4 linked regions of the Homo sapiens genome follow. The protein of the gene in region 3 interacts with the protein of the main gene of each other region in a biochemical or structural test. Each region holds a gene or a part of one and is shown on either strand. Other genes may lie near its edges. The genes, in order: CFH, PODXL2, SELL and PRKG1.

What was found.
Region 1: the proteins of SELL (region 3) and CFH form a complex in vitro, tested with the Homo sapiens proteins (one study listed by BioGRID).
Region 2: the proteins of SELL (region 3) and PODXL2 form a complex in vitro, tested with the Homo sapiens proteins (one study listed by BioGRID).
Region 4: of the proteins of SELL (region 3) and PRKG1, one has a biochemical effect on the other in vitro, tested with the Homo sapiens proteins (one study listed by BioGRID).

The regions. Positions count from the first base shown.
Region 1 is NC_000001.11:196,647,210-196,655,853, reverse strand, and holds the start of CFH (complement factor H isoform a precursor), read right to left. Parts: upstream 3,812-8,644; 5' UTR 3,737-3,811; coding exon 3,679-3,736; intron 1-3,678. UniProt on the Homo sapiens protein: Glycoprotein that plays an essential role in maintaining a well-balanced immune response by modulating complement activation.
Region 2 is NC_000003.12:127,659,632-127,667,642, reverse strand, and holds part of PODXL2 (podocalyxin-like protein 2 precursor), read right to left. Parts: intron 7,266-8,011; coding exon 6,484-7,265; intron 5,407-6,483; coding exon 5,332-5,406; intron 1-5,331. UniProt on the Homo sapiens protein: Acts as a ligand for vascular selectins. Mediates rapid rolling of leukocytes over vascular surfaces through high affinity divalent cation-dependent interactions with E-, P- and L-selectins.
Region 3 is NC_000001.11:169,693,974-169,701,984, reverse strand, and holds part of SELL (L-selectin precursor), read left to right. Parts: intron 1-296; coding exon 297-425; intron 426-5,431; coding exon 5,432-5,450; intron 5,451-8,011. UniProt on the Homo sapiens protein: Calcium-dependent lectin that mediates cell adhesion by binding to glycoproteins on neighboring cells. Mediates the adherence of lymphocytes to endothelial cells of high endothelial venules in peripheral lymph nodes.
Region 4 is NC_000010.11:51,070,153-51,078,175, reverse strand, and holds the start of PRKG1 (cGMP-dependent protein kinase 1), read right to left. Parts: upstream 3,690-8,023; 5' UTR 3,586-3,689; coding exon 3,275-3,585; exon of another isoform or gene 3,064-3,274; coding exon of another isoform or gene 3,056-3,063; intron 1-3,055. UniProt on the Homo sapiens protein: Serine/threonine protein kinase that acts as a key mediator of the nitric oxide (NO)/cGMP signaling pathway. GMP binding activates PRKG1, which phosphorylates serines and threonines on many cellular proteins.

The sequences.
Region 1 (8,644 bases), about 27 Mb from region 3:
CTTTTTATGACTCCTTATAATTTTAAGCTAAAATGCAATACTTTTTTGTCAATTACATCATCCCCTTTCCATGTACTATGGTTTTGTGAAGAAATGGGTAAAGTACACGTTAGTTAACTGAGCACGGGATAGATTGGGTGGCAGAATCTCAAAGGCCTAGGCAGGTGGGGGATGGTGTGTGTGGGGAGGAGGAGAAGGCATAACTGGGAAGAATGAAAAGTGGCAAAAGACTGCAGAATAAACAATCGAGGATTAAGCAAATAAAAGTGGGTCAATGTAGACTGGCTCAGATCTTAGAAACCAAAGGCCACACATGAAGAACATTTACCAATCTGCTTTTGAACTTATATTTGGGAACTTACTTCTACCTAAGAATAATTTTAGTTAGCAATACTTAGATATTTCATTTTTAGTTTAAATTATATGTAGGCAAAAGAGTAGCATATGCATTCCCAGGATATGCCTAAATTTAAAATAAGCAAAGCTTGCCTTGGCAGACGTCTCAGGCTCGTGCCATTTCTGTGGGCATTTTCTCTACCCCTTCTCTTATAGCACTCACTATAGCACTTCAACCAGCAGATCTGTCCTACCTGGGAAAACCCCATCTTCCAGAATCACTTTGTTCTATTCTTATCCTCATCAACATCCATTTCTACCCTCCCCCGCCCACTGAAATTGTTTCAGGGAAGTTGTCAGATGATAATAATTCAAAGTAAATTATGAATAATACTAAATTTAACTATCCTAAAATATGTATTCAGTGTATTTGTCATTCCATGTAAATGACAGATTGGTTGAAATTATAGTAATATTAATATCAACACGTAAAGTATTTTAGGAGGAGATGAGATATTGAAGCCAATTGGGCCATCGCACAATTTAAATCACACCATATAGATAAATACACATACTACTATCTCTGAAAATATGGGGGTTTGGGGGAGCAAAGGGGAATTCTTATTTATCACACTGAAATTCAAACATACAATTTAGGATTTTAGACCACTATTCTCCTTTCTCTGACTGTAATGGAATCCATCAATCTCTGATCTATAAAGTCTTCTGGGACCTGAAATAACGTTTCTGCACTCTAAATCTCCAGGATTAAAAAACATGTCTCCCAAACAACACAGCCAGTATTTACTTGAACATGTTTCAGTAGAGTTTTAATTTATTCACTTTAATCATCTTGGAATTTCTGGGCTGTGGCCTAATTTCATATAGTACACAATTGTTAGACCCTAAATCTAAAAAATCTGCTTGGTCATAATATATTCAAAACCTTGGTCATACTATATTTCAAAAAGGTGAAATTAGGTGGTACGATTGAGAAACTGTTATTTTAAACTTTGTCCTGTAAATCTGACCCAATTCTTAGTAGCCTGCAGTGACCCCCTGAGCCAGACTGTTAAAACAAGGAGGCAATTAACGTTCCTACACAATTGGAAATGTTATTGTAGACAATATATTGCATTAGAAAGGTTCTATGTAGTACCCAATATATTAAAAAAAGAAAACAAATAGAAAGCTGAAATTACAAATTATTCCTGCTGGCTATAATTCTTTCTTAGTAATGAATAGTGTTTTTTTTGAAGAAAGTTCACTCTTAACAGAGCAGAAGTAATGCTAAAATGTTATGCTGTTGAATAAAGCAGATTGTGATAGTATTCAAACTATCTTCTCAATTTGGTATTCAGTATTCAATGTGGAAAATATAAACAGAAGCAAATATTGAAATATATGTGAGTATTTTTCATGATCAAAGCTACTCTGTTAAGTAAAAATTTTTTAGATATGGTAGATTAATAGAACTGATGGACATCTCGAACTAGTTTAGTTTCAGAGAGTATTTGGGAAACAAGGAATAAATTAGGAGTCTGATATCCACTGAAAATTCATGTAGTTTTTCTCCATTGGCTTTTGCATTACATGTGCTTTTATGAAAATTATGAGGCTGGCCTAAGCATTGCTTTAAATACAAAGTTGTGCTTTATCTTTTAGGAAATAATCAGATTTATATCATTTTCACCATAACATATATAGTGCCGATGTTCAATTCACCAGTAGAAACTGATACCACATTTAAACACACATTGATGAAAAATAAAATAAAAGTGAAACAAGTCAGCAATAATCAATTATGTAAATAAGATGTTTAAATCACTATTGTTTAATTATCACATATACTTTGATGTACTCTATTTTAATAATATTTCAAATTCAACTTTTTAATAACTTAAACTGTTTATTAAACTTGCCATTGATTCTTGATTTTAAAGATTAGAAATAAAACAAATCTCCCTTATATGACAAATGGTATCTATGTAAAACTGGAGCAAACAGTATGTAGGTATGAAACGTTAGAAACATTCCCATAAATTTAGTAAGAAAAGACAGAAATATTTACACAAAGAAACAGAAAAAGATGTCTTTTACAATAGGTAATATTGACATTGTTCTGGAACTGTTTGTAAATACAAAAAGGTTTCATTTTAAAATACTAATTATAATATTTATATGTACAAGGAAATAATTGTTTTCTTCATTTAAAAAGTGGCTACATATAAAGTTTACAAGCCAAAGAACAAGCAATAACATTAGAAAATATAACTGAAAATAATTCAACCTTTCAAAAGGTATTAAACATATTTGAATATTTTTTAAATTACCAAAGTGTATAACTATAAGAATATATCTGCTTTTATTTTCTAGATTGGAAGACTGAAACAGAGATTTGTATTATTTGCTAATATTCTTCAGTTCCTAGAGGCTATGTAATGGTCACTCAATCAAAATTTCTTTACTAAGTGAAAAGATTTTAGAAATTATGAATAATATGTAATTCATTCAGTTTAAAAATGTTTACCAAATATCTATCACATAACTGGTTACCTATCAAAAACTAGGAAAGCAAACCTCCTCCAAGAATAAGCTTTTTAATCTATCAAGAAGCAGTGATATAATTAAATTTTATTATGAATCCAGAAATTGTCTTACTGAGGTCAGAAAAAAACTCCTACATTCATATTCACTACTCCAAAAGACTGCTCTTCAAGAATATATGTTATATACAACTACAGGAAAAAAATCTCTATTGAACAACTTAACTGTTACAAATATTGTATATTCAATTGGGTTTCAAATTTATATAATATTTTTATTCTGATAATACAAGTAATACTTGTCTACAAGAATTCTAAGGTCATGACAATATCAGTTGTAAATGATAAATGAATTTTTATTTAGGAAGAGTTAAAATCATATTTGAAATAAATCTAATCATTATGATTTGATGGCTTTTATTGACTATGTATATTCACATCCTTCTTAATGCTTTCACATAATACATTTTGGTTATACTCCTAAGCAAAAAAGTAAATTACATTTTATGATAATTACAAGGGAAATGATTATTCCAGATCATAGTTTTTCAGAAATGTTTATTAAAACATTTTATTCTATTTTATATTAAATATAATTATGATGAATATTTAGATATACCATTCAAATAAGGTTCTTACATTTTTTAAACTCAACAATGTCAAAAGCCACTCAATTGTCAAGTTACAGAATACTTAAGCACATTTTCTAAATCAAATTTTTATTACTCCTGTGAAAAGCATCATTAGCAAATGTTTCATAATACAGTTTTCAGAAAAGAGTCTCTTTTAATCTTACCTTCTGCTACACAAATAGCCCATAACATAAGGCAAATAATCTTTGCTAGAAGTCTCATTTTTTGGATCTTTTAAGAGGACATTTACCAGCTAACTCTGTTCACAACGTCCAGTTCTCCTCTTCCAAGAATTGTGATTAGTGCAGGAAAGAACTTGCTGCAAAAGGAAGTTGAAACTAGATGCTCCGCCTATCAGAAACTTTTGCAAAGTAAATAAAAAATCAACCACAAGCCACAAGCCCAGAAATGCCAGAAGTTAAACCCAATTCTCACTGCACTCCCACTAAATGTTAATGCTGTGACCGGCTCTTGGACTTTTTCTTATTAAGCTAGGGAAATTCTCCGTTGGAAAATGTTCATGTTCTTGGTATGTGCAAATCAGCAGCTGGTGATATCCTCTGGATTTCATAAACCCTTCAATTATTCAAACTCTATTCGGGTCTATTGTGTATAAACCTCAGAACAGGAAATAAGAGAAACTTTAAAAGAAATCACATACAAAACTTTGGTTTAGGCAATGTTTTCACAATCAGCACCCAGACAATGTGTACAAACTTTGCCAAGAATGCAGTGCTTGATGAATTTGGGGGTCTGCTTTTCTAGCAATTTATGAAATTAGTTTTCTAAATACTTTTTGTATATGTGTATGAAGCAACTGGCTCACTCTCATTTGACGTAAATAGGTTTAATAATCCAAAAATCAACAAATTGAAATGCTGATTTTTAAAACTTTGTATTGTAGTGTAATATGTATAAGGAAAACATAAATCATATGCTGGATATTGAGAAGGTAAAGATACCTGTGAAACCACCACCAAGGTCAAAACACTGAACATTATTACATCCCAGAAAACCCCAGTACTCCTTTTCAGTCAATACGCCTCTCAACCCTCTCCCACACCCCCCACACACAGAGACCACGATTCTGATCTTCAAGAACATGGAATATATTTGTCTGGCTTTTGTACTTTGTATAATGAAAAAGAAGCAGTTTATTCTTATGTTTAGAGTTTTTCACCAAAAATTGTGTTTGGACCATTCAAACACATTGTTAGATGTAGTTACAGATAGTTCATTCTTATTGCGATTTAATACTCCACTTTTTGAATAGTTCACATTTTATTTATCTGTGTGCCTGTTAGTGAGCATTTGAGCAGATTTTAGTTTGGAGCTGGTATGAATAGTGCTGCTATGGGCCTTATATTATGAGGTTTTTGGTAAACACAATCCACATTTCTGGTAAGTGCATACTTGGTAGTGAAACACTGGGACATAATTTATGTTTAGGTGTAATGGATAAAATTAGACAATTTTCCAAATGGATTATAACACTTGACATCACTTGACATTTCTATCAGCAGTGTCCAAGTTGCTCCATACCCTCAGAGATACTTGGTAATTTTAATCCTTGTAATTTTAGCTTTTCTGGTAACACAAAGCAATAATTCTCCGTGGTTATAATATGAATTTTCCTGATGACTAATTGAAATGTGAGAGATCCCTGATTCCCCTTGAAGGACATGCAACAGGTGTGCGGCTTGCCAGTTAGGTCGCCCTGCAGCTCAAACCCCTTACGGGGAGGGGGAGCACACAGATGCACCGGTGCGGGAACCGGAGTGAGCGCTTTCGGGCTCTGGCCTCACAGCAGCATCTAGGGGTGGGTGTCTGCGATTTCCGAAGCCCAAGTGGGCGTATGTTACAGTGTGCTCCTTTAGCTTTGCCATCTGCAAATGGTTTATGTGTTAATCAGCTCAACAAACCCTCTTCCTTATCTCATGGGTAGTGGGACAGTGAAATAGCCCTCTATATCCCCAGCTGTTGCCCAGTGTCCCAAAAGAATCGGATCACACGGGGGCTCGAGGGATGAGGGCAACTTTTTATTGAGTGGTGGAGGTGGCTGTCAGCAAGATGGAGTGGGAAGGTGACCTTCGCCCAGTGTCAGGCCTCCCAGTGGCCAGACTCTTCTCCACCCGTCCCTGGCCAAACTCCCCTCGGAGTCCAGATGTCCCTCCTCTCTTTCTCTGCTGTGTCATTCTGCCATCGCAGGCCTGTTTGTCGGCTTGCCTCTCCGTCTCCTCACTTGTAGGTCTCTTCTGGAGCTTGGAGTTTGGGATTTATATGGGGGTACGACAGCGGGGCATGGCGGGCCAAAAGGCAACTTTTTGGGTGTGAAACCTGAAATGCCTGTCCTCATTTAGGGCCACAGGTCTTCAGGCTTGAGGGTGGGGCCTTTGCTTGGGGACCACCCTCTTCTACCCAGTATTTCCCTGTCTCCTGCCCTTAACATGAAGTTGAGAAACTTTCCTGTGGTAACTGGTCATTTAGATACCCTCTTTGGTAAAGGTTCTATTCAAATCCTTTGCATATTTTTTTCTTATTGAGTTGTTTGTCTTTGACTTATTGGAGTGTAGGAACTGTTTATATATAATTACTTATATATTCTAGATATGAAAATAATCTTATTAATATGTATTATAAATACCTTCTTCCAGTCTGTGGGTTTTCTTTCTATTCAGTATTACATGTCTTTTATAATAATAAAAAGAATTCCTTAATTTTAAAATAGAGCAAATTTTCAATTTTTTTCTATGACTAGTGCATTATGTGTCCTATTTAATGAAAGCTTGCCTAGTCCTAGAACACAATGCTTTTCTTCTAAAAGAATTATTTTATCTTTCACATTTAAGACCTTTAGAACAACTGTAATTGTCTTTTGTGTATAGCATAATAAAAAGCTCCAGATGCATTTTTAAAATAGAGATATCCAATTGTTATAGCATTATTCAACGAAAGTATCATTCTTTCCTCTGTACTGACATGCTTTCACCTTTGTCATAAGTCAGGTGCTGGATATGTGTGGGTCTATATCACCAAGCTCTTCTTACTGTAATAGTTTATTTTTAAAACTTTTCTAAAGTGTAAATTTCTGGGAACTTTGGCTTTCTAGTTATCTTTTAAATTGATTTCTTTTTTAATTTCATATTCTAAATAATTACACTGTTTTAAAATTTGATGAGTCTTTCTTTATGGCCCATTATAGTCAAAATTCTACCTATGTCAGTAGGTCAAGTTTGTAATTTGTTAAAATCTTTTGTATTTTTATTATGTTTTTGTCTGATTATTCCATCAGATATTGAAAGGGTGTATTACATCTCCCATTATAAATGTGGATTTGTGTATTTCCCTGTTTAATGCTGTGAATCTTTATATATTTTAGGGCTATGATGATGCTTGCATACGTATTTAGAATTGTGATATCCTTCTTTTGCATTGGTCATTTTCTCATATTAAATGGCCCACCCTAACTCTAATTTTGCTTCCAATGTGAATTTTACATTTTATTTTATTTTTATTTTTATTTTTGTAATAAAAATATAAGGAATAAGAGTTAGACTTAGTCATTTGTTCTGAGAAAAATAAGAAATAAAATAGCATGGATATATGAATAATCAAGCAAATTCGAATTCTGAACTATCATTCTGAAGTTTAATTTGATTTAACTGATAACACATATGTTGACATACTAGATCATTTAAACTTCTTCTTTATTCCTTCCTTAGTTTTATCTGTTTGAGTATGAATCCAAACATTTTACCTGGGGCTTAAATTTCCAATAGTGGTTTCTATTCTAATAGCAATATTATCACTTGGAGAGTATTCCAGAAACTTACTAAGATTAATATTATTGAGTGTTAATTATATACCAGGCACAGATCTAAGCACATTTATTCAATACTTAATGCAACACAATGAAATGGGAGACTATTACTCTTTCAAAGGTATAGATGACTGAACTGAACCACAGAACATTTTAGCAACTCCCTTAAGGTCACAAGACATTGCTGGAGCCAGGTATCAAATCCAGTGGTCTGTGTTTAAAATATGTGTTTAAAAATATAGTAAAATATTCACATATGTACTCTAGTGTATGCTTCACATTTATTTATTTTACAATTATGCATATACTGTAAAAGTATTGAAGGTACACACACACATATATATGTTTGTGGATAATTTAAAGTACATACAGGAATGATTTTGCTATACAAATCTTCACCTAATTTGCAATTGTTGAATGTAAAATGCCACTCTACTATCCAAGTAGAAATAATCCTCTTGAATTAATTTCAACAAATATCTTTCAGATGTATTATTTTTACTATTTTTTCTTTATCCTACCTTTTTTCAAAGACTGATGGCTAACGTCAATTGAGTGTTTTTGTTTCCCTTTTTTCATCAATACTTTTCAAAACTACAAAAGTCTATTATAAAGAAATTCAGAACATAAGAAAATTAGCAACATATTATGCCTTAAACTCATAAAATTATTATGTAGTATTAGATTACCATTAGAAAGACCAGATAGTAAATAGTTAACTATTAATACTAAGATTAAACATGAAATGGATCCAATTTATTTTCAATATTCATGTTGGCACATTCTCAGCAAATACATACTATGTATATTTGGACATTAAAAATTTAGAAGAGTAAGGATATAAATTTGTATTAGAGAAAAATCCATATTTAAAAAATTAGAAATAGTTAATATCTATGCTAAGTAACAAATGACTGTTATGATTAAAATTTTCGAAGGAAGTTTACAAGAAAGAGAAATTACTGAACACTGGTTTTGATCAGGGATGATTTTAAGAACACTTGGATATTACACTGTAGTTTAAGGGAAGAGTACCACTGAGACTGTGAAGAATAGGAAAGTGTGGGGACTAATCTAGAATTAATGAGAAGACTCACATTGGAGCAGTGGTTTTGCACAAGGAAATTGTGGAAGAAGTAAAAGGAGCTTTAAATGAGGAATGGTTTGAATTCCAGATCAAAAACTTGCAAATTATTTTACAGGCAATAAAGAATCTTTGATAGATCTAATTGAGGAAGAAATGTAAGTCATGCATTATTTAAGTAATGGTGCTTTGGCGGTTGTATTAAAATAGATGGAGGAAAAAGGAC
Region 2 (8,011 bases), on a different chromosome or scaffold from region 3:
ACAGAAACTCAACGAATGGCAAGAGCCCAGGCTGGGGCACAGGCCAGAACCCTGCCTCCTGGTTCACATCCTGCCATTTGTCCCTGCCCAGCCCCATCTAGGAAGATACCCTCCTTTGGCCCTGTGGCCACTCCTCACTCCGGCTCCTCCCCAGCAGCCTTCTCCCTCCTGAACATGCACAGTCACACATTCCCTGCTCGTAGCCTCCACAGCCTGCTGCAGATACCCCTCTCCCAGGTGCTCAGCTCTCTCACAGTGCCCTGCTATGCAGCTGAGAGCCAGCGCCACTGGGAGGCACGAGCATCTCACCAGGCCAGCCCTGCAGGATCCCCTGCCACTCCAAATCTCCCTTCTGCTAGAGCCCAGGCTAATGAGCTGTTCCGTAGTTGTCATGCCAACCTAAAGGCTACCAGAGGGATTGAAATGCTGGGCCTCTGTTCTTTGTTACCATGGCAAATGCCAGGCTCAGGCTCAAGCCTTGGCACTCACTGGTCTAATAGCCAGCCAACTGAGTTTTAAATGTGGGAGAAGATGGGTACCTGGAGATGGCCATAGAGCAGATGGAAACCCCTAGTTCTGTGATGGTTCTTACTTTATTCACTGATTGAGTATGGGGGGAGAAGGAGTGCATGCCCGCCCCTGCCAGAGCAAGGGTCCATGCACCATGACCCACAGACCCCTGGTTACAAAACAAGCACTCTCCTGCCACATGAAGTGCCTGCCCTCTGTGCTGTGGCTCTGTGCTCTGCTGTGTTTGCACACCCCATGTTTTCCTGGGTACATATGTCTGCCTGGCTTAAGCCCAGAGACCCACAATGTCAGTGTGGGAGGATCTGATGACTGCAGATTTCATACCACTTATTATGTAGACAGGAAAACTGAATGTCCGTGGCAAGGGGGAAAAGCCCTGACTTTGGAATCAAATAAATCTGGGTTCTGGCCAGGTGCACTGGTTCATGTAATCCCAACATTTGGGAGGCCAAGGGAGGTGGATCACTTGGGCCCAGGAGTTCCAACTCCTGCACAGACAACACGGCAAACTCCGTCTCTACAAAAAATGCAAAAAAATTAACCAAGTATGGTGGTGCACATCTGTGGTCCCAGCTCCTTGGGAGGCTGAGGTGGGAGGATCACGTGAGCCTGGGCAGTTGAGGCTGCAGTAAGCTGACATTGTGCCACTGTACTCCAGCCTGGGTGACAAAAATAAATAAATACATTGGTTCAAATCTTGCTTCTGCCATTTGTCAGCTCTCTGTGATGTCAGCAAAAAAAAAAAAAAAGAAGTACCTCTCTGAGCCTCAGTTTCCCTATTTAAAAACATGGGCAATGGTCCTGACACCCTACCTTACTGTGAATAAGTAAAGTACTTATTCAATCACAGGTGCTGGGACAACTGGATATCCCATGGAAAACAAAAAAAGTTCCTTGATTCATACCTGACATCATTTACCAAAACTAATTCCAGATGGACTACAGATCTAAAGTTTGTAGCAGTAAGCACAGGAGGACATCATCCAGTGGTGATGGATTAGAATTGGAAATACTGAATTTGTACTTTTAATATGTGTACATGCATTATACATGATATATGTATATCTATGCCCTAGAGAGAGACAGAAATAAAGATCCATATTGCTCAGTTCTTCTAGAAGGGCCTAGAAGCAGTGACACCCCAGTAGCCATGAGCACACCTGGGGCCCAGATCTTAGTTTCTAAATACCTTTCCTCATTAAAAGGAAGCAGGACTCCTTGCAGAAATGGCTAAATTGGGGGCTGGGGCAAGGAAAGTCCCATGCAGCCTGGAACATCTTGTAAGCACGTGTGTGGCATGCACTGAGAAACTCTGCAGCCTCAGGCAAAGGACTGGCGCCTCATCACTGTGTCAACGCTGCTTCTTTATCCAGATCTTGATGATCCAGCCCTTTGCATGGAAGCTCTATTTCAGGATTTTCACTAAAGGATGATCCACATATTTCTCCTCCTTGTCCTTATCCTCTAGCACTTCTCTCTGTTGTGCTAGACAAAGGATCAGATCCTTGCATCTCTACAGTAAGGATTTCTTTTGCCTTCTAGAACTCAAAAACACCACCTCTGGATTTCCTGTTTTATCTTTCTTCCTCCTCTCATGTTTCCTTCTTAGACTTCTTTCCAGTTTCTTCTATGTTACCTGTGACATCTAGGTAAAATAGAAGCCACTGAGCCTGCATCACTTTCTCTAGATCTTGAGGGCTGAACTCCTGGAACTCCTGTAGTTCCATCGTGTAAAACTTTCCACAAGAGACTGCCAGCACTTTTCTCCCTGTCTTTTTCTGAATATGTAGTCTCTGTATAGCCCATCAGTTTTTATGCACATTTATTCCTTTCATTTTTCAAATAAGTCAAGGTCATTAAATGCAAAGAAAGGCCGAGGAACTATTCCAGATTAAAGGAGACTAAAGAGACAAGACAAATAATGTGATGCATGACCATGGATTATATCCCGGCATGGGAGGGAAGAAGGCTATAAAGGACATTATTGGAACCATGGTGAAATTGAAATAAGGTAGGTAATCAGATAATAGTTTTGTAGCAGTGCTAATTCCTGATTTTGACCATTCCATTGTGGTTATCTAAAAGAATATTCTTGTTCTGAGGAAACACAAACTAATGTATTTGGGGGTAGGGGCAAAAGGAAATAATGTCTTCAACTTTTTCTCAAATGGTTTGAAAAAATTCTAACAAGTGGTGAATCTGGCAAAGAAACTAATAAGTATGTTGATAAAATATAGTAAGCATTGACTGTTAATAATAATGACTAATGCTCAACATCACCAATCATCAGGGAAAATGCAAATCAAAACCACAATGAGACCATTTAGGTTGGTGCAAAGGTAATTGCGGGTTTTGTCATTACTTTCAATGGCAAAAACCGCAATTACTTTTGCACCAACCAAATACCTCACTTCTCTCAGGATGGCCACTGTTTAAAAAAACAGAAAAGAACAAGTGTTTATGAGGATGTGGAAACACTGGAACCCTAGTGCTGGCGAAAATGTAAAATGGTATACTCATAGCGAAAAACAGTATGGAGATTCCTCAAAAAAATTTAAAATAGAATTACCATATGATCCAGCAACCCCACTTCTGGGTATATACCCAAAATAATTAAAAACAGAGTCTTGAAGATATATTTGCACAGCACATTCCCAGCAGCACTATTCACAATAGCCAAAAGATGGAAGCAATGCAAGTGTCCATGGACAGCTGCATGGATAAATAACATGTGGTATATACATACAATGGAATATTTTTCAGCCTTAAAAAAAAAAAAAGAAATTTCTGCCACATGCTACCAAATGGATGAACCCTGAGGACATTATGCTGAGTGAAATGAACCAGATGTAAAAATGACAAATGTTGTCTAATTCCACTTCTATTAGGTATCCAGAGTAGTCCCATTCATAGAAACCAAAAGGAGAATGGTGGGTGCAAGGAGAATGGTGGGTGCCGGGACTGGGGAACAGGTAGTCATTTAATGGGTACAGAGTTTCAGCTTTGAAAATGAAAAAGTTCTGGGGCTCTGTTCCACAACAATGTGCATATACTTAACACAACTGAACTTATATTTACAAAGGGTGAAATGGAAAATTTTATGTTTTTTACTACAATAAAAAAAATCTACCATAAAAAATAATGATGACTAATTGAGTGGAGGTCACATATTAGAATAACACAGAAGACAAAAACAGGGAAAACAGAATAAAAGCATCTTAATATCTATGTATTGATTGGCAAAAAGATACGAACTTTAGGCTGTATTGTTCAAGTATGCACACCAAAAGTTCAAGGGTCCCAAGTACCCATCTGTGGTCTTCATGTACCATTTCCCAATGAAGGGAATGAGGGCTCCATGTCTGGGGGAGGAAGGTGAGCCTGGAATGTCTTATTATGCCAGAAAGCAAGGAAGCAATCAGACACTTAATAGATTGGTCAAAAGGACTCAGAGGCCAACTCAAAGAGGCTTTCCCTGGCCAAAGATGAGGTATTGAGCATCAGTAAAAATAATAACTGCAATGGATGAAAACACACATCACTTAGGTGAAGATCCATCAGTATAGTGATGGTGGGGGAAACCAACCTTGCTGGGGACTTTTGGATTCAACGCATGCATGTCCCTTCAGTCTTGCCCAGGCCCACTAACAAGAGTAAAGAATTTAAGGCCTAAAACCAGAGACAAAGCAAAACAGAAGAGGAGACAAGAGCAACAAAATCTAGACACTGGAAGCAGATGGTGAGTTAGAATTTCCTAATTTAGCAAACTCTAAAGAGCCAAACCCTAAGCCAAAATGAGGAAAGCTGAGAAGCAATCAGATGCATACTGATTGACACTCCCCAGATGCCCCGGAATAGGGGCCCTGGTTACCTTTGGAAGAGGGGATGAAAATGCTACTAAAAATATGAGCTGGTCGAAAGTTTGCTTAAGAAACGGCTGGGTCCCTAGTTCTTCCCGCAGTGCTGCACAGCCAAGAAATGTCCCTTCTCCCTGGCAGAAGACTGGAAGTTTATTCTTTAAAAAAGATAAAACAGAGGGTCTCTGACCTAGAGAGCATCAGACACAAGTGTGTGTTTTGGGGAGGGAGAAGGTCACTCTGCAAACAGGAAGAGACAGTACATGAATATTGATATTTATGGATACATATTTATAATACTGAAACACCCAGCCCTCTCTCTCCACCCCAGCTCCCAGAACACTGACAACCAACTTGTTATACTTCGAACAGAACAGAAGTTCCCTTTTCAAAGACTCTAATCACCTCAGGAGGAAGGACCTAACAATGCTGCCATTGCAAATTTCTAAGTGATACGGCCCAGCCAGACCACTCTCATGAGAAGCCATAGCTGACAACCCTAGCACTATGCTCAAAGCTTCCAGCCACTTTTTCGATAGAGAGAGCTATGAACAAACTCCACCAGACATGTGTGGAGAGCATGTATATATATGAAAAGGCTGAGACCCAAAACGGAGAAAAGCAACCTATACAGGAAGAAAACAACTCTAAAAAAGACAGAAAGGTTTCAATATCACGGGAGAGGTAAGATGGTGCACACATGAACAAAGTATTCATTTAAATTAAAAAGAGAGGGAAGCAAGAACCAAAGAGCCTTTGGACATTTTAAAATACGAAAGCTCTCTGTGTGTAATGTTGATGGCTGCTGGTATATCCCTGGGCCACCAACTGAAGGACTAAGCCTTCTCCCACGCACTGCTTGTCCCCCCAGCCTGCCCTCTGCCCCACCCTGTCCACTGCCTGCAGCCTTTCCCTGCGGTTCGGAGCCTGGCTGGGCACTCACACAGTCTATGTTCTCTGTCATGTTCAGAATGATGTAGTTTTTCCCAGCCAGATTGCTCCAGTCCTTGCAGATCACCTGTGCGAGGAGACAGAAAGAAGGGCGACAGTTACGAAGGCATAGGAAAGGGACAGGGGAGAGAGCCCCGGTCGGAGGCCTTTTGGGAAGCTGGAAGGTGGAGGCCAGTGGAGGCGTATTACAGCGAGGGGGCTGCTGACAGCCTCTGTGAGGCACCATGCCAAGGAGTACAAACTCGAATGTCTTTGGGGACCAAGCAGGGAATGTATTGAGTGAGAGGAGGAGGCCAGGCATTATTCCCAGGAAGTAGGGGACTATATCAAAGGGGCCAGGCTGCAGAGAGCTTGCCCCACATGCTGGCTTTCAAGGGCAAGTTTATTGTTAATATTCTGGGGCTCCTTTCTTTTCCTTGCGGTGTCAGTGGGTGTGAACACTGACTTGTGCCTGCTATGCACATGGGTGTCGGTGGGGAGGAGGAGGGTGGTGAGATGGGATGGGGAAAGCACAGGTCAGCCACTAGCTCTAGCTGCTGGTAGAATCAGTGCAGAAGTCTAAGTGTGGGCTGGGTGCGGTAGCTAATGCCTGTAATCCCAGCACTTCAGGAGGCCATAGCGGGTGGATCACTTGAAGTCAGGAGTTCCCGACCAGCCTGGCCAACATGGTGAAACCCTGTCTCCACTAAAAATACAAAAATTAGCCAGGCATGGTGGCACATGCCTGTAATCCCAGCTACTCAGGGGGCTGAGGTATGAGAATTGCTTGAACCTGGGCGGTGGAGGTTGCAGTGAACCGAGATCATGCCCACTTCACTCCAGCCTGGGCGACAGAGTGAGACTCCATCTCGGGAAAAAAAAAAAACAAAAGATGTCTAAGGGTGGCAATGGTAACACATGAACAAATGAAACCCAGGCCAGGCCACCAAGTTTCTCCAAAGGCCTTTGCACAGAAGTGTGGGGAGAACACCCATTGTTGGCCCTGAGGTTTGCATCCCCACAAGTTCCATGGGGTTCTACGTGCTGTGGAAAGGGCCTCCCTCCTCAACCTGGCAGATCCTGCCCCCATGCCACACTAGCCCTGGGGATGGCCAGGCTCTGTGAAGAAGGTACAGGGTGGTGGCCCGCATGCCCCTCACTTTACCTGCGTAGAATCCCAGGGTATCCTGGATTGAGCTTCAGCTGCCTGCCCTTCTAGGAGCTGCTGGTTGAGATCTTCTTGTCCCAAGGTAGCAGAGGAAGGTGTCAGTTCCATGTCTCCAGGGGCCAGTGGGGAAGAGGCTGAGGTTCTAGAGCCAAGGGGATCTTCATCTGGGTGCTCGGCCCCACTGGGAGCTGTGGTTTGAGGGAATGAAGGCAAGGCCGGCACCTCCTCGTGCTGGCCAGACAAACCAGCTGCTCCTGCAGTGGCTTCCTCGCTTGCTTCCTGAGGAGCCTCGAACTCTACCCCAAGCCCTGCAGCTGGCAGCACTGTGGCCTCTGCCTCTTGGCTGGTGGAGTCCTGGTCCCCCGGAGTCACTGTAGTTGGGGTGACTGAAGGCAGCAGCAAGCTGGGCCCCATGCTGCTCTCCACCTCCACACCTGATGAGGCCTGGTCCCCGGAGTCTTCATGCCTGCTTTTGGTGGCCCCTGGGGTCTGGCTGCTGCTGGTGAGAGAAAAGTCACGGACCTGAGGCTTGGCTTCTTCTTGGGATCCATTCACAGGGAGCAGCTCCTCCTCTTCCTCCTCCTCTTGTTTCTCTACCTCTTCCTTCTCCCTCTCCTCCTCTTCCTCTTCCTCTTCTTCCTCCTCTCTGGGAGGCATATGCCAGGGAGGCTCAACCAGATTCATCTTGGGCAAGGGAGAGGGGAGGTTTGGCAGCTCTTGAGCCTGGCTGGTGTCTTCAATGGAACCTGCCTTCTCAGTTAAGTCAGGAAAAACATAATCTAAGGACAGAGATGAAAAGTTCATTCACTTGTTTCATCATTCATTGCTTTACTCAGTATTTACTGGGCAGATGGCATAAAAGAACCACAATACACTGACAGGGCAGGGGTCATCAGGTCATGATGGAGAGGCCAGGGGAGCAGACTGTGGGAGGACACAGGGACAAGGCTAGTCACTGTTTCCTTTATGATGATAAAATAATACAAATTTATCACCAAAACTCAATGAACACAGGAATGTAGAAAGTTTTGTATATTGCATTCCTCCAAAAGAGCCATGAGTAGTTTGAGGTATATATTCTCCACTGTGTTTGTAATGTGCTTGCTTGTCCTCATCTGGGGATTTCACCAAGAAGATCCCACAACAACCCACTAGGAAGGGTCCCCCTACTCCTTTTCTAGTGAGTCGTTATAAGAGTCTTCTTGGTGGAGTCCCCGAAGGAGGTCTGAGAGCCCTCTCATCACTGGAGGAAGTGAGACCCCTCAATTATGACCATTGTTCCTCAACTGTGCTCTTTTTCTGTAATTTAGGCCCTGACAGGAAATGAAAAAGATGTAGGGAGAGCCAGAGAGAGGCCAGGGGCTGAGCCCAGAGTTTTCCAGGGCCTCCCAGAATGTTCAGGGTCACTGTTGGCAATGGGAGAGGGGTTTTTATTCTCCCTGCCATTCTTGGGAATTACATTTTGAAGCAGAGAAGTTAGGAGACTTCCTGGAGATCAGATTGTTTTCTGGCTTTTCAATGAACC
Region 3 (8,011 bases):
AAATACAACGATGACCATTCTTGCCAACATTTTTAGGTGCATTTTCAGGAACTCTATGAACCACAAATCTGGGCATTGAGATTCTGTAGGCATTAGACTAGCAAGGCTGGTCCAGTCTTTGCCTATGCTGTAGACTCATCAGGGGCCTTCCCATGCCAGTTTCCTCATCTGTCAAATGGCATCAAATGGGCTACTACTGGGAGATGTAAGGAGGAAAAAAGTCAAATATCATGAGATAGACTAAGGAAATAATGCTGGTGGTCTCATGCTATGTGCCTTACTGATTTCTCTTTCAGAATTGGACAAAAGTTTCTCAATGATTAAGGAGGGTGATTATAACCCCCTCTTCATTCCAGTGGCAGTCATGGTTACTGCATTCTCTGGGTTGGCATTTATCATTTGGCTGGCAAGGAGATTAAAAAAAGGTATGTGAGTTTAACTTCACATGAAAAGAACACAACTTTAAAGTGAAAAAGAAAAAAAAAAGAAACCCACAGGAAATTAAATGTGATAGATTCAACACAAGCAGGATGCCAAGCTTTACATTCTAGAGCCATCAGTCCCTGGAGACATGTAAATCAGCCCAGGACACACCTTCATTAAAACAGGTTGGCTGATTTTCGCTTTTCATCTGATAAACTTTTAAAAATGTCTATTACCTTCAAGGCAGCTTGCTAGGCTGATAACAACTAAGTGAGATATTCTAATGGTTCTTTGCTCTTATGTAATTCTTTAATACTTTTTTTTTTTTGAGACAGAGCCTCACTCTGTCACCAGGCTAGAGTGCAGTGGTGCAATTTCAGCTCACTGCAACCTCCGCCTTCTGGGTTCAAGCTATTCTCCCACCTCAGCCTCCCAAGTAGCTGGGACTACAGGAGCGTGCCACCATGCCCAGCTAATTTTTTGTATTTTTAGTAGACACGGGGTTTCACTGTGTTAGCCAGAGTGGTCTCGATCTCCTGACCTCGTGATCTGCCTGCCTTGGCCTCCCAAAGGGCTTGGATTACAGGTGTGAGCCACCACGCCTGGCCTGCTCTTAATTAATTCTGAAAAAATGACACACTATCTCTGTCCTCTAAGAGCCTACATGCCTTGGATTTCAATGCTACAATTCCACTAGGAAGTGGGTCTAATGTCCACTAAGGTTTCAAGGCACTGCTCCCAAATACCTGACCTCTTCAAGAGTCACCTGGTTCCCAACACATGGGCATTGCATTAACCCTGGGAGAAATTCCCATGTATTCTCCCAAGTATCTATTCACCAAGGCCACAGCTCTAACCAAATGCACCATATATGCTTTCCAACCATCCGTCACTGGAGAGGAAAAGAGAAGGAGGACTGCCTTGAGAAGTTAACATCTGCTGCCCAGATTATCACTCCCTTTACCTTAAGGCATGAGTGTGTCTCAGCTTTAAAGTGTGAGCAACCCACTAGCCTGCAGCAGGCCTTGGGTGTATGGTGCCACATTTGGCCAAACTCACCTGGAAGAACCATTCAAGGCTGTAACATTCATGGACATTGGGCAGCTTTTAAGATATACCTGTTTTGGCCAGGTGTGGTGGCTCATGCCTGTAATCCCAGCACTTTGGGAGGCCGAGGCGGGCGGATCATGAGCTCAGCAGTTCAAGACCAGCCTGGCCAACATGGTGAAACCCTGTCTCTACTAAAAATACAAAAATTAGCCAGGCGTGGTGGCGGGCACCTGTAATCCCAGCTACTCGGGAGGCTGAGACAGAAGAATCACTTGAACCCGGGAGGCGGAGGTTGCAGTGAGCTGAGACCGCACCATTGCACTCCAGCCTGGTGACAGAGTGAGACTCTGTCTCAAAAAAAAAAAAAAAAAAGATATACCTGTTTCAAGTTCAGGGATGATCTCGAAACAATTGCTAACCAACTGCTCTGTGTTGCCTTTCTGTGGGCTCAGTTGATTGTCATTTTAATTTTCCTTCCATCAAATTAGTTAGTACGTATTCTGTTCACTGAATATGGTATGTAAAGGTTGCCCCCTGTCCATTTACACTGGCAATTACAAAAATATTATTTATCAGTCCCTAATTGCGTGCCACTCTGATCTTATCTTTCATTTAAATTTGAGAATAGTGGGCGCTAGGTAAGTTTTCTAACCAATCCAGAAAGACAAAGTGTGTGAGGGGGGTGGGGATTGTTGATATGCAAGAACTTCATTAGCTATGTATAACCTGAGAGCACTGAGCAGTTAAAATGTCTCTGCCCTTGCTATTAGAAATTCTGTGCTGATTGAATCTCACTATCTTATAGTATTATACAGTACTAAGTACTATACAGTACTAAGTATAAGTATCAAGTACTGCATTAAGGCAAAAGAAGAATGACAGTTTTCTCCAACCACTGATTATTCTTTCCATTGAGACTTCAAATCTTGACCCCGGTTGTCCTGTCTTTCTTCCTACCTTGGGCGATGATGGCAGAACTGACGGATAGAGAACAGGGTGGGTTATTACACACTGCCCCCTGGGATAAGGTGGCTATTGTCTAAATAATTTTAAGGACTTTGGGGCTGTAAGTCACCTTAATAAGGAAGCTATTTATTTCCGAATTCTAAAATCTTTTAATAAGTGTTTGTAGAATCAAAAGAATAGAATCAAACTCATTTGCATGTAGTGAGGGGTTAGCTGGCTAAGGCTGTTTTATAAGCAAGGGTAAAAAAATTAGAGGGGTTGTTTTTAAATTTTTTACCTTGGAGTCATTTCTGTACAAGATCTCAAACCGATAACTTGAAAACTGCTGTGGGAATCAGTGTGGGGCAAACAGGAAACAGATAACGGGCAGTTAGGCTAGTTACAGTTATGCCAACAAAGAAAACAGAAGCCCCAAAAGATCACTGGCTTGGTAGGAAGCTTAGGGTATCTTTAAGATAACATTAAATAGTCTTCATCTGTGGGCCAGGCACCTTGGCTGTCACCTCTAATCCCAGCACTTTTGGAGGCTGAGGCAGGAGGATTACTTGAGCCCACGAGTTCAAGACCAGCCTGGGCAACATGGCGAAACCACATCTCTACAAAAATACAAAAAATTAGTCAGGCATGGTAGCATGCACATGTAGTCCCAGCTACCCAGGAGACTGAGGTGGGAGGATCACTTGAACCCAGGAGGTCAAGGCTGCAGTAAGCCATGACAGCACCACTGCACTCCACAACAGAGTGAGGCCCTGTCTCAAAAAAAAAAAAAAAAAAAGTCTTCATTTATAAAACAACATCTTCCATTTTCACCAACTTACAAATGATTCTGCTTTCCAAAGATTTTAGTTGTAGGTTGGTCCTTTAAAACATGAAGAGTATTTTTCCTATGGAGGCAATGGTAGAAATAATGGCTACATTCCCAGGCTAAATCTAAGACAAAATATAGTTAATGGCATTTACAAGGATAAAAGTAAAAAGTCATAAATCTCTATGTGTGTGTTTAGGTGTGTGTGTGTGTCTATGTGTGTGTGTATATGTATATATATACACAGAGAGAGAGAGAGAGAGAGAGAGAATTTATAGGCTTTTTGGGTTCTAATAGTTAGAAAAAGGGCACAGGTAACTATTTAGAGCATGGTAGCCAATGAAGTGACTAGAGCCTTCACCCCTATTCTTCTGTCCTCAGATGAATCTTCTGACTCTAGCACTTTGTCCCCTGCCCTAGTAGTCTTAGTATGGAGACTTTCCCTCCTTTCTTTTAGGAAAGGAATAAGGAACAGTTCCAGAAACATGTGTCCTTGTGCATGGGCTCATCTAGACACATTTTGTGCACCAGGCATTATCATTTTCTGATTAGTCACTACCATTGGCCCTGTTTGGTAAATAAGGAAACCAGGGCAATGATGTTTTAGGCCAAATCTCAAAAATACCATATCAGCAGGACCCAGAGTCAGAGATTAGACTCCAGTCCAGATACATCTTCTAAAATCACTGGTCTTCAGATTTGTGAACTGGTTTTTTCCTCGGTTGGAAGAATTTCCCACCAGAACCAACACACAGGGTTAGACCAGGGCATGAAACTGAACACATGCCCCCTTAGTTCCTTTTTCTTCAAAATGAAACTCTCTCAGTAGGAACAGATTCTTACTCATCTATTGCTGTTAGGTTCATCATCCCTAAAAAAAATATTTATGTGAAGCTAACCAGAATCTGAAATTAATTCAGATTTGATTCCCCCTGCTCAAGTGCACTTGGTCATCAGCAGGCTGAATTTTAGAAGAAAAGATTTCAAATAGTAGTCTTTAATACTTTAAAGGATTAAAACAGTAATGCAACACTGTCTACGTGCTAGGACCTGAACTAAATACTTGGAAATATTTTATTTTATCAACCCAATGAGGATGATACAATTATTATGCCTCTTTAACAGATGAAGAAATTGTAGTTTAGAAAAGAAAGTAGCTGTTCAAATACACACTACACTACAGGTGGCAAAATAGGGCTTTCACCTGGGTAGGATGATTCTAGAATGCCACTTTACAGCCACTGAAATATATTGCCTCCCAAATGATTCTTTCTGCTCAAAGAGTTTTTTTTAAGTTATCTACTTATTTATATTCTGCTTTTTTCAAAAAGAATGTGAGAACAGTACAAAATGTGTTCAGTATAGCAAATTAAAATTAATTAAAAAGTAAGAAAAAGAAGCCAATTTGGGCAACCCACTCGGGTCCCCTTCCACGCTGTGGAAGCTTTGTTGTTTCGCTCTTCGCAATAATAAATGAGCTTGATGTTTTATTGAGTACAAAAAAAAAAAAAAGAAAGCCAAATTTAAACTTAGGGTACAAAAATCATTTGGAACCAAGGTTGAAGTTATGGCACAAAAATGTATGTCACAAAGTTTTATATACTTGGTAGGAGAGGGTCTCAGATCTAGCTCTGAGTTTCCTTACAGCCAGTCAAAGGAGAACCATGTGATATTCCTTGTGTTTGTAAGATAAAAACACATTAGTTACTCAGATGAGGCTGCACAATTCCTACCAACAAGACCAAAGTGAAATTCTCTTGTGGATTCTCATAGAGATGATGCTGTGAGCTGTAATGGCACATAGTTTTACAGTATTAGCAGCTGTCCCTCAAGGGAAGAATCTGCAGGTAGGATGAGATGGCAGATTGGGAAGGGATAAACACTTGAATGGACATATTGGGTCTTGCCACCAGGCAATTTAGCAATTCTGTCTTCTTGAGTAGCACGGAGAATGGAATGGAACCTCAGGAGGCATCTGCATCAACATGTCTGTTCTGTATTAGTGTCTACCACTGTTTATTAAGCCAGTTCCTCAAATCTCCTTTGACACAGATAGGGTCCACCTAACAAATACCTAATATACTTCAAAAGACAGTTTTGAGAGTGGGAGTCTTCCTTCTCCCTTACTTGAAAAACTTTAAATTGTCTAATTTTTGCTAATGCCTTTTCTCTATTTTCTATTTTCAGGCAAGAAATCCAAGAGAAGGTAAGTTTTATTAGTGGCGAGGAGTTTCCACATCTGCTGATTCATTCTCTACTTCCTTAAGTTACTTCCTGCTCTAGCTAGACACATTAACCCCATAGTAGTTTATTTACCTGGGGTCCTCATCCAAATGACCAGATAAGGTGATAAATCTACTAGCTTCCTTTCAGAGCTGTGCTTTTTGGTGCTAGTGGAGCTGAATGAATGAATGAACGAACAAGTAATCCCTATTAGAAAAGGGCAGTTTATGTAAAGGGAGATTTTTCTGATTACCTCAGAATTTTTTCTGAGGGTTAAAAACATTGTGGTGTGTTCTTCTTGTTCTTAAATATATTATTTAAGAAATATTCAATTGAACAAGCACTTATTGAGAAATGAATAAATGCTTATTCAATTGACTATTTGCATTCAATTGCTCTAACAGGCATTGTCCTTCAGAAATGTGGGAAAGATAGGGAGCATGAATTCTACCTACAGCTTCCCCAAGGAGGCAAGTATTTTTCAGTTTGGTCTTGAAGCTCAAATTTCTTCTACTGGAGAAATAGCACAGTGGGAGGAGATGCAGACATGTGAAAGTTGATGGCCCACCTGGCAGAAATGAAGATGGAAAAATATTTCTCAGTATCTAGGGTTTAGTGACTTGCTCTGGAATTTTAGGAAGGAGAGTTTAAGTAAAATAAACTATGAAAGGAGGACTTTGGTGACATATTCAGTACCCAGCTGGACAACTGAGCTTCCTTTAAAATGCTAGAAATGAAGTGAGATGATTTCTGAAGGGATTGGATGCTGGTTTGGGCAACCATCCTACCAATCACAAACTTAGTATGGGCCATTGCTTAGAATGCAAAGGAAAAAGTGGGGAAAAATGAGGCACCAGAAGCCAGATCATAAACTAATGTATAAGCCATGTGATATGGGCTTTATCTTGAGGTCTTTTGGGATATCACTAAAGGGGTTTAAACAGTGAGTAGCCTTACCTCTGGCATCTTATAAGGTCACCCTGCAGAGCAGTATGGCAAGTGTGGGAGACAGGTGAGCCTGGATTCAAAGAGACTTGTTTTGGAGGCATTTGCAGTTATTAGATTAAAACCGATGGCGCCTGTCTAGGGAACTAGTAGTAAGAATGGGTTCATGAAATAAGAGGAGGTGATATTAACTGAATGTGTCTGTTAATTGGCTAAAAGTGAGAGAGAAGAATCAAATTATCATCTTTCTCACCTGGAAACTGGCGGATGGTAGTCCTGTTTACTTCTGAGAAGGGAACATAAAAGAATGAGAGGTTTTGGAGGTAAAGATCATGGGTTCAGTTTTGTACTGAGCTTTGGGTGTATGCACATCATTCACTGTGGCTCATTGGACCTATCCAAAGCACAGAGGCTATGGCAGGAGAAGTGGATTTGGGTCCCTCACATTTCAGGAGGTAACTGCCATCTCAGGAGTGGGTACTATCATCCAGGGAGGGTGTGAGTGCTTTAAGAATGGAAGAGGACCTGGGAGAGAGTATGGGAGCCAGAGGAACATCATTATCTAATAAGTCACCTAAGGGAAAGAGAAATGAAAAGATGTTGCCAGGCAGGGAGAAGGAAGAGGAGAAAGAGTGTGGGGTAATGAATGCCAAGGAAACAAAGAAAGGGGAACGGTTTCAAACATTGCCAAGAGAACCAGTAAGTATCCCCTGGATGCAACAAGGGTGTCAGTGGGGAGACTATTTGCAGTGCAGACATCAAGACAGAGGTCAGACGGCCAAGCATTGAGCATTACTGAGGATGAGAAAGTAGAGACAGAACAAGCAGTCATCTCTTTTAAAATGTTTGGCTGTGAAGGAGAAGTGGGGCAGGGGTAACTGGATGAGGATGTACGATCAGTGGAGGTTCTTTTTATTCTTTTTAATTACTCTGTCTTCTCTTTACTAGTGCAAATGGAGTCTAGTGAGGAAAGGCTTCTTTCTCTGGGCTGGTCTCCCTATGTCTGTGGCAGGAAACCCACAGATGTGAAGATTTCTTTCAAACTCGCACCTACTGAGTGAAAGTATTTTCTGGCACAATCTACCCAGAGCTGTTTTCTGGCTACCGGAACCACCTGTTTTAATTGCCACTAGATGGAAGCAGATCAACTAGATTTTTTTTTTTTAAGATGTCCTTGAGGCACAGGAGGAGAGACTGGCTGGAAGAATATTAGCAAAAAGCTAATTACCATGCTAAGCAAATTGCTATATTAAGTTTAATGGTTCACTGATTTTTTATAATCAGTCAATTAATAGTTGTTTATTGAACATTTTTGTGTTGGAAACTGCTAAGCTTTCTTGAGACAGCAAGAGGAGTCAGCCTGGTCCCTGATTTCAGGAAAATTATTACCTAGCTGGGGAGTTAAGACAGGAATATAGAAAGAAAAAAATCAGAAAAATACAAGGCAGAGCATGGTAATGGCCAATGGGTGCTATATTTAAGAAGGAAAAGGTCATTTGGCTTGGTGGTTATAGAAAATGTTATAAAGAAGGTTGCTTATGAAGAATAGATAGGATTTAGGTATATGGAGAAAAGCAGGAAAGGAAGGCAGTCTGTAGG
Region 4 (8,023 bases), on a different chromosome or scaffold from region 3:
TTACAAAAATACAAAGACACTAACCACTTTTAGGAACTCAAGTCTATATAATCCAACTGAAATGACTGAAACCCTGTGACATGAAAATGGAAAAGATTTGGGAATATTTTCAAAAGATAAGGGGTTTAGATCAAAATTTCAGAGACTGAATGTTCTAACATGATATAGAATCAATTTCAGGAATGAAACTTCATGAAATAAAATTACTTAAGTCCATAAGAACTATTCTATATAGGCAATCAACAGGCTATCTGATCTCACATAATGAATGCTTAGGTTTTGTTTTTCATTTTAAGGGTTTATTTGCTCAGTTTATTTCCAAATATAGTTTAGTAGTTTTACATTCTCAAGGAGTTATTTGGTAGCAGTGGAATACAGATTCCAATTTGCTACATCAGTTCTTTCCTTCACATAAGTATTGTATCTATACAGATTGTGAAAGAGACCAATAAAAACCCTCCTCCTACCTCATAGTTATAGCAGGAGTGTCCTGGCTCAGTGCTGGAATCTGACAGAACCTTCCCTCCAATTCCCACATTAAAGGAAAAATTCCAAGCCAAAAATGTTAAAATGATTCAAGTTATTAAGTTAATTTACATTTTATACTATTTTTAAATGACCAAATTTACCAAGAAACCAGAACTAAAAAAAATTATAATCCTCAGAAGGCAACCTTAGTAAGTAAAAACTAAACAGATATATTTGCATATATCAGATAAATGAACAGAACATTAGCGGGGCAGTTACCTACATCTAAAAAAAAGAGAATCAAAAACTAGCATGAACGTAAACTGGAAATTAATGTGTCTATTTAGATAGTTTCATTTTAACTGGAAACTCACAATAATCTATATGTATGTTTAAGAAAGATGGCTACATTTAAGATGTAGTAAAGATGAAATACAAAGACACAAACACTTGTTGCCAGTAAGTCCGTGTAATCAAATTATTCATAGTGAAATACATTGAAAGGCAAACAAGTCTTCTTTGGTTTGGCAGGTTTTCTTAACTCTTTGTGGAGCTACCTTGTACAACCATTCAAACAACATAAGATTTATTCATTTTGCATACAATGTACTTCTTTTTTCCCTAAGAAAGGTACACTTTCTACTACTCAAGCCAATTTTTTTCTAGTTTTCTTTATGTAAGTGTGAAAAAAGAACAGATGTTTTTCCAAAATTATTTAAGCTTGGAAGGCATTCTATCATTTTCCTCAATAAAATACTTCAGAGTCACCCAAAGCATCATGGCAATACCTTAAGAGCTGAGTCCTTTAAAATACAAGTTATTAGTAAGAAATCAGTATCAGGACACACAGTGTTGTTTGATAGATAAAATGTTATTATAATGATAGATAAAATGTTATTATAATGGGATGCTGTAAATTATTTGCCACACCAGCTTTATTTTCCACTCTGGACCTTTTTCGTTTGTTTGTTTTTCAATCTAGATATTCTACAAGTCATGTACAAAGAGGCTTTTAAACTTATCACATTGTATAGCTCATTCCCTACTGCCTAGAATCTTGTAAATCTCTGATGGAATGTGTAACTGGAGTTATCAGCTGGCTTCAACATGCTTCACTATGAAACCTATTAAAGTGGTCTTTTTGTAAAAGCAGAGTTTGCTCTGTGTCACTCAAAAGTCCTGCGGATACAAAAATGAGATCCTATGAAATGTTTAAAGATGCAGAGAGCTGTCTTTGAGTTATTTTTTCATTATGCAAAACTTGGCCCAGGAGAGATGGTCATGTACCTCGTTAGCTAAAACAGTCAGGCATGTCAGGATTGCAAATTAATTTACCAGAGAAAGTTGAAGTTTATTCAGATCACTCAGGTTTCTAAGGCAGATCTAAGTCTGCTGAACTATTAGGGCAATTTGGTAAGGTCAGAATCTCAGAAATGTTTATCCTTATTGTCTCTTTCCAACTCCCTCGCAGAATACAAACTCCTCCCTAAACTAAGCCTGCATGAACAGCAAATGTTCCATGGGAATCAACATGTATAGGTATAACTCTAAGTTTTCAAAAGTAGTAATTGGTACATGCTGTGATTCTCCCCAAAAAACATCCAATAAATACAAATAGAGATAATCAAATATTTACTTTCTCCTTATATTAACTTGTTGTATTTATGAAGTGAAGGGTTTCGATGGACCTTGCATTATTACGTAACACGTGCCATCCAGCCAATGTGATTTCGTTAGTAGTAGAGTAAGCAGCAATATCCTTGGTTTTATCAATTACGTTATTATCTATTAATTTAAAATGCCGTTCTTTTGGGTGCTCTCCCACATTCTGTTAACCTCATGTTCCTGTCGCTTTACTCTCCATATGAACTCTGAGTTGAGTGTTGTATAACAAGTTTCATTAAATTTTTCCCATCCAAGTTATGAAGCCCACTAACATCAGAATTGCACAGTTCCCTAAAAGGCTAGAACAATGCCAGAGTGGTTGCATTAGAAGCCAAGAGTAAGGCAAACAATGGGTCCACGTTTTAAATAAGATAAGTGTGCTTATCTGTATCTGACCCTGGAAACAAGCAACCACCTCTTGGGAGATGGAGATGCTCCATTAGTAACATTATGCACGTTTCTTAAGTAAAATAAGCAATCTTCTCCCTCATATGTTATGAAAAAATATTTCTTCAAAATCAACAGACTAGTCTTCCATTTATGGATTGTAAATGTCATCCAATTCAGGAAATCAAAAATTCTTCCTTTTTCTATGCCTATTTGCTTATGTTTCACACTTTGATGATGACAAGAACGTCAGGTTTGAAGGGTACCAGCGTGAAGCGCCAGCAGGTAGAGAAATCCGGGAGAGCCACAAAAGCATAGAAAGTATGGGTGATCAGACGCATTTCATTTCAAGTCTGATGAGCCTGCATTTAGGATTTTCCAGCTGGGCTGGTTTGCCAGGGCTTTTGGGAGACGGGGGCTTTTTATTTCTTCTCTCACACTCACACACACGGTCGGACACACACCTGGGACGTGTTCAAACTCTACGTACACTAGGTGGCTTATACGAATGTATATGTATATTTAAAAATAATACCTTGACATCTGACAAAGACACGAAGGCAACGTATGTGCAGTGAGTCTGGCTCTGAGAAACGTGCACAGCCCCGCAAGAAGTGCCCGTTAAAATGAAACATTTCTGAGGATGAGGACAGACATGGCAAGCGGGAGGGGCGGGGGCCGACAGACAATACAGAGACCCGCAGCTCCCCATCGCCAGGGCGCCACATGGACCCGGCGCGTCACCCCTGCTTACTGTGGGCTCTTGGGGTAGAAGGGCAGGGTCACATGGCTGAGATCCTGGATGTCGAAGGCGGTGGGCTCGGCGGAGATCGCCTGCCGCTTGGTGCGCGGCTCGCCCTGCAAGGTGCTCGCGCTCTGCTTCTGCGCCTGCTGGGTGGCTGGTCGGATCACCGAGCGGTACTTGTCCAGCTCGTTCTGCAGCTTCTGGATCAGTTCGTCCTTCTGATCCAACTCCAGCTCCAGCTCGTCGATGAGAGCATCCCGCTGCCTCAGCTCCTCGATCTTCTCCTGGAGCGCGTACTGTAAATCCCGCAAGGTGCCCATGCTCCTCCGGGCTGCCGGGGGCTCCTTCCTGCCGCTGCTCCGCGTCTTGAGGCTTCCTCCCCTCTCCGATCAACTTTCCCCAAAGTCGCCGCTGCCTCCCGAGTGCCAAAGCTTCCTACTTGAGACCAAAGCCAGCCCTGGCTTCTGAGCATGCCCAGTCCGCCGGCTCCAGCCACCCAGAGTTTCAGTGCAGATTCCACTTCTCTGGGCTGGCTGTGAGGCTCAGAGCGGGGAGAGCAAACCAGCAGGTCCAACCCGGGATTAAACCTGAGACGCGGTGGGCGCCGCGGCGCGGGGGAGAAGAGTCGGAGGCGCGGTGGCGGGGGAGCGGGAGGAGGGGACGTGAATGGGGGCTCCGAGGCAGCGGCTGGGCTCTCAGAGTCCCTCGCGCCGGGCGCCCAAGGAAGCTTGCGGGGCGTGCGGGGAGCCTGATAAGCCTCCGAGGCGCGCCGGGGGTGTGCGGGTGGAGCGAGGCGGGAGCGCTACTTCGGGGGTGGGGAGGTGGGAGGGAGGGGACAGGGAGGACCCCGGGCAAACTCGGGAGGCCTCAGCTGACTCCAGAGCAGACCAGCCTGGAGAATGTTGAGCTACGATCCTAGCGACGTACGAGGCATAGGGGACTCTGCATCATCAAAGCTCTGAGTTCTGGAGGTATTTTGACGGCCGGCCTCACTAAGGAAAGCTCCCGAGCGGTGTGGCCGAGCTGTCGCTTCTCCCACGCCACCTTTCCCACCCAGAGCGCCTCACACAGGTGGCTAACGCTTGCGAAGAAACTTGCCTCTCAGGAGATGCGAGCGAGTCGGCGCCCGCGAGGAATTCCCCCTTTCAGCCTACTACCTTTGGGAAAGGGTTGTGGGGTAGGGGGTGGGGTTTCCGATTTTAGCACCCGAGGCGTTGCTACTCTTCGCCTGCTCCAGATAGTTACTTTCCTTTCTGCCCCTTCCAAACTCTCATCGGGGAACTGTTTTAGGGCAAAGGCCAAAAACGGATTTGGGCCCTAGCAGGTCACTCAGCTTCCCCATGAGCCCTCCGCCTTGAGCTGGTGCCTGGGAATAGTTCTCGGATGGGCCTTGCTTCTTCCATTTGCTGAATTTGGCGGGGAGAGGGTGGGGGTTAAAAATCATTCCCGAGCTCCAAAAATTTCATCTTGAAACTGAATCATACCTTTAAAAATATTACTTTCCTCACAACCAAGCTGTTAGGAATGTATCTTTCCACTTGAATGGCCAGGAAGACATCCTGACACAAACTTTGAAGAAGAGGGAAAATCGTGAAGGAGCGAGGGAGACCACGCAGGCTGCAGTGAATTGTACACTATACTGCAGTCACCCCCACCTCTACCCACTCCCACCCTCATCCCTGCCCACTCAATATTCCCCAAAATGATCACAATTAGGTAACTTCCTTTCTATCCAAGTGTTACACTCCCATCATGGGAACACATGTTTAGAATCCCCAAATATCTGCCTAATACGTACCTAAATCCCTAATATTTGCTTAAGACATTACGAACTCATCCAATTTTATAGCATCTTTATTGGCAGATTTTTGATTACTATTCTTGGGCACTCAATATTATAATCCTCAATGCTCTATTTGGTTATTCCTTAACACTAAAACAAAGTGGACAGAAAATAAAATTGAATTGCAATGCAATTCTAAACTTAGCAAAGAATAGTATCAAAATAACTTGCACACTGTTGCTTTTGAATACACAACTTTTTGTATTTAAGCTAGAGACAGAGGAAGGGAGGAAAGGAGGGAGGGAGGTCAAGGTATCTTAACAAGCTTGTTCATTTAAAGTGTCCTTGTTTTTAATTAGAGGACTAAATGACAAAATATATAGTCCTAAATATTCTTTTATGTAGATTATGATCTAGTAATTCTCTTAATGCAGATTACACAAGACACTTCATTTTTCTGCTTTCCAACACAGACTTTCAGAAGTGCATTTATTTCTAAATGTGATATATAAAATGGATCATTCTCAAAACATTTTCTTTTGCAATGAAGAAATGAGCAACTTACAAATATTGAAAATAATAATAGCTCTGAATTACTGTTGTTTTAATTAAAAGTAAACCAAGCAGAAGTACTGTGACTTTGTATAACTCACTGTATTCTAAAAAAGCTTCCATGAAAATTTCCTTCTTCTGGGCAAAAGGCCAAATTCTTATTTAACCTGTGGGAATTCTTTATTTCCATGGGAAAATGTTGAATACAAAATGACTTTTTCCTATAGATCTATTATTGGGGTTCATGAAGCCATGAGTTTATGTCTAAAAATATACCAGATACAATGTATAGAGGACATAATTAGACAACTGCTAAGCTGGGTTCAGAATTCCAGGATTTTCTCTTTGTTTTTTTTTTGTTTGTTTGTGTGTTTGTTTTTGAGACGGAGTTTTGCTCTGGTCACCCAGGCTGAAGTGCAGTGGCGCAATCTCAGCTCCCTGCAACCTCCGCCTCCTGGATTCAAGTGATTCTCCTGCCTCAGCCTCCGGAGTAGCTGGGACTACAGGCACCCGCCACCACGCCGGCTAGTTTTTGTATTTTTAGTAGAGACGGGGTTCACCATGTTGGCCAGGATGTTCTCGATCTCTTGATCTCGTGATCTGCCCGCCTTGGCCTCCAAAAATGCTGGGATTATAGGCATTAGCCACTGTGCCCAGCCATCTCGTTCATTTTTAAAGTGAAAACAAATATTTTAAATACGTTTTTCATTGATGTTTTAGAGTTTATTTAGGGTTTAAATGGGGTTACTTAATGTTTTTGAGCAGCACAAAGAGAGAAGGTTCTTCCTCATTTGTAGAAAGTCTGTCTACATGTACAAAGGAAAATAAAAACTAAAACACTTTCCCCAAAAATAAAAAAACCAAAAATATTTAGGCATTTTGGAAAAAAGTGAGTTTTTTTACACTAAATTATGTAAATACTTATCAGTATTTAAGCTGGCATATCTAAATGCAACTATAGGATGTATACACATTACATTTTCATTTTAAATTTACATCTCATGATATAAAATCTGTTCCAGGATGAATCTGATATTGAGAGTCAGGAATCTGTTATAACAAACACAAATAGAGTAAAAAGCTGAAAAGACATGACTTTTACAATTGACTTTAAAAGGTGTTCAAGGAATAGAATATATTTAGTTATCTCAGGCTGTGTTATTTTTTTAAATTGACTTCCCCTTAAATGCTTTATAATTTCATATGCAAAATCCAGGATTCTAGCCTTTTCTCTTTCATTTTTAAAGTAAAAATAAATATTTTAAGTATGTTTTTCAATGATGCTTTTGACCAGCTGTTTAGATCTTGAGCGACCAGGTTTCCATCTCAACCTTTTGAGTGTTTCCAATATTTTCTTAAACATCTTCTGCGTTGTACTTAGTAAATGCTGGAAATAAACCCTATGTGAAAAATCAAAGTCCTGCAATTACGTCTTAACAGACAAATTATCTTTACTAAGTGTCATGTAGTAAACTTAATTGGCTAAATTACAAGATCAAAGATCAGGCACAAGTCTACTTTCTGCTAATTAGGAAGTGTCTACCTCAGATTCCTTCAGGGATAGAGTAGAGGAGAATGGCTTGATCTGAGCCCTGCCCCACTGCCTATCTGAGATGAAGCTTTGACATTAGATGCTAACAGTTAGAACAATGCAATTTTGAAGGAACTGACTTCATACTCTAGAATTCCAGAAACAACTCACAACCTGTTTTTCAGCAGTCTTCCTTTTTCATAACTTTAATAGAAGCAAAGTTCTACTGGTAGCCAGACCAAACTGTGGCCTGTTGAACTCCAACATGCTCTTTAGTCTTGCACCCAATCCTCATAATTGAGAATAAAAACTGACATGCCTTCCTTAATGGATTCTCAGAATCATTTAATGAGCTATTCCAATAAAGTAGCTTTATTATAATACTGGCTATTCAAAAATAAATCTGTAGAATTTGTCATCCTTCACTAAAAACATAATTAGCCCAAAAGAACTGTGCTAATTTTATCCACTTATCCATTCCACTGACACTGTATTTCCTGGAAGAATCTTAAGTTTTGAAATTTTCTTCTGTCATTTCATGTGTATATCTTGAATGGGAAAAAATAAACAAACAAATATATAGCTGAGCCTTTCAGGAGACAGAAGCTTCCTCTGGCAGAAGATTGCTAAAAGTAACAAGTCCTCCTAGGAATCTAGATTTTAAAGCTATTACTGGCAGACATGACGGTCTGTTCTAAGTTGCTAATCATAATCAAGATCACAAAAAATTAACTAACTTCCTTGACTTCTTAATGCATGATAGGTATTGTTCATACAACCCTATAAGTTCAATATTATTAATATTCTATTAATATTAGAGAAAATGGAGTCACAGAATCATTCACCTAATCAATGGCAAAGACTGGCTTCATATCCAGACTAGGTGATGTAG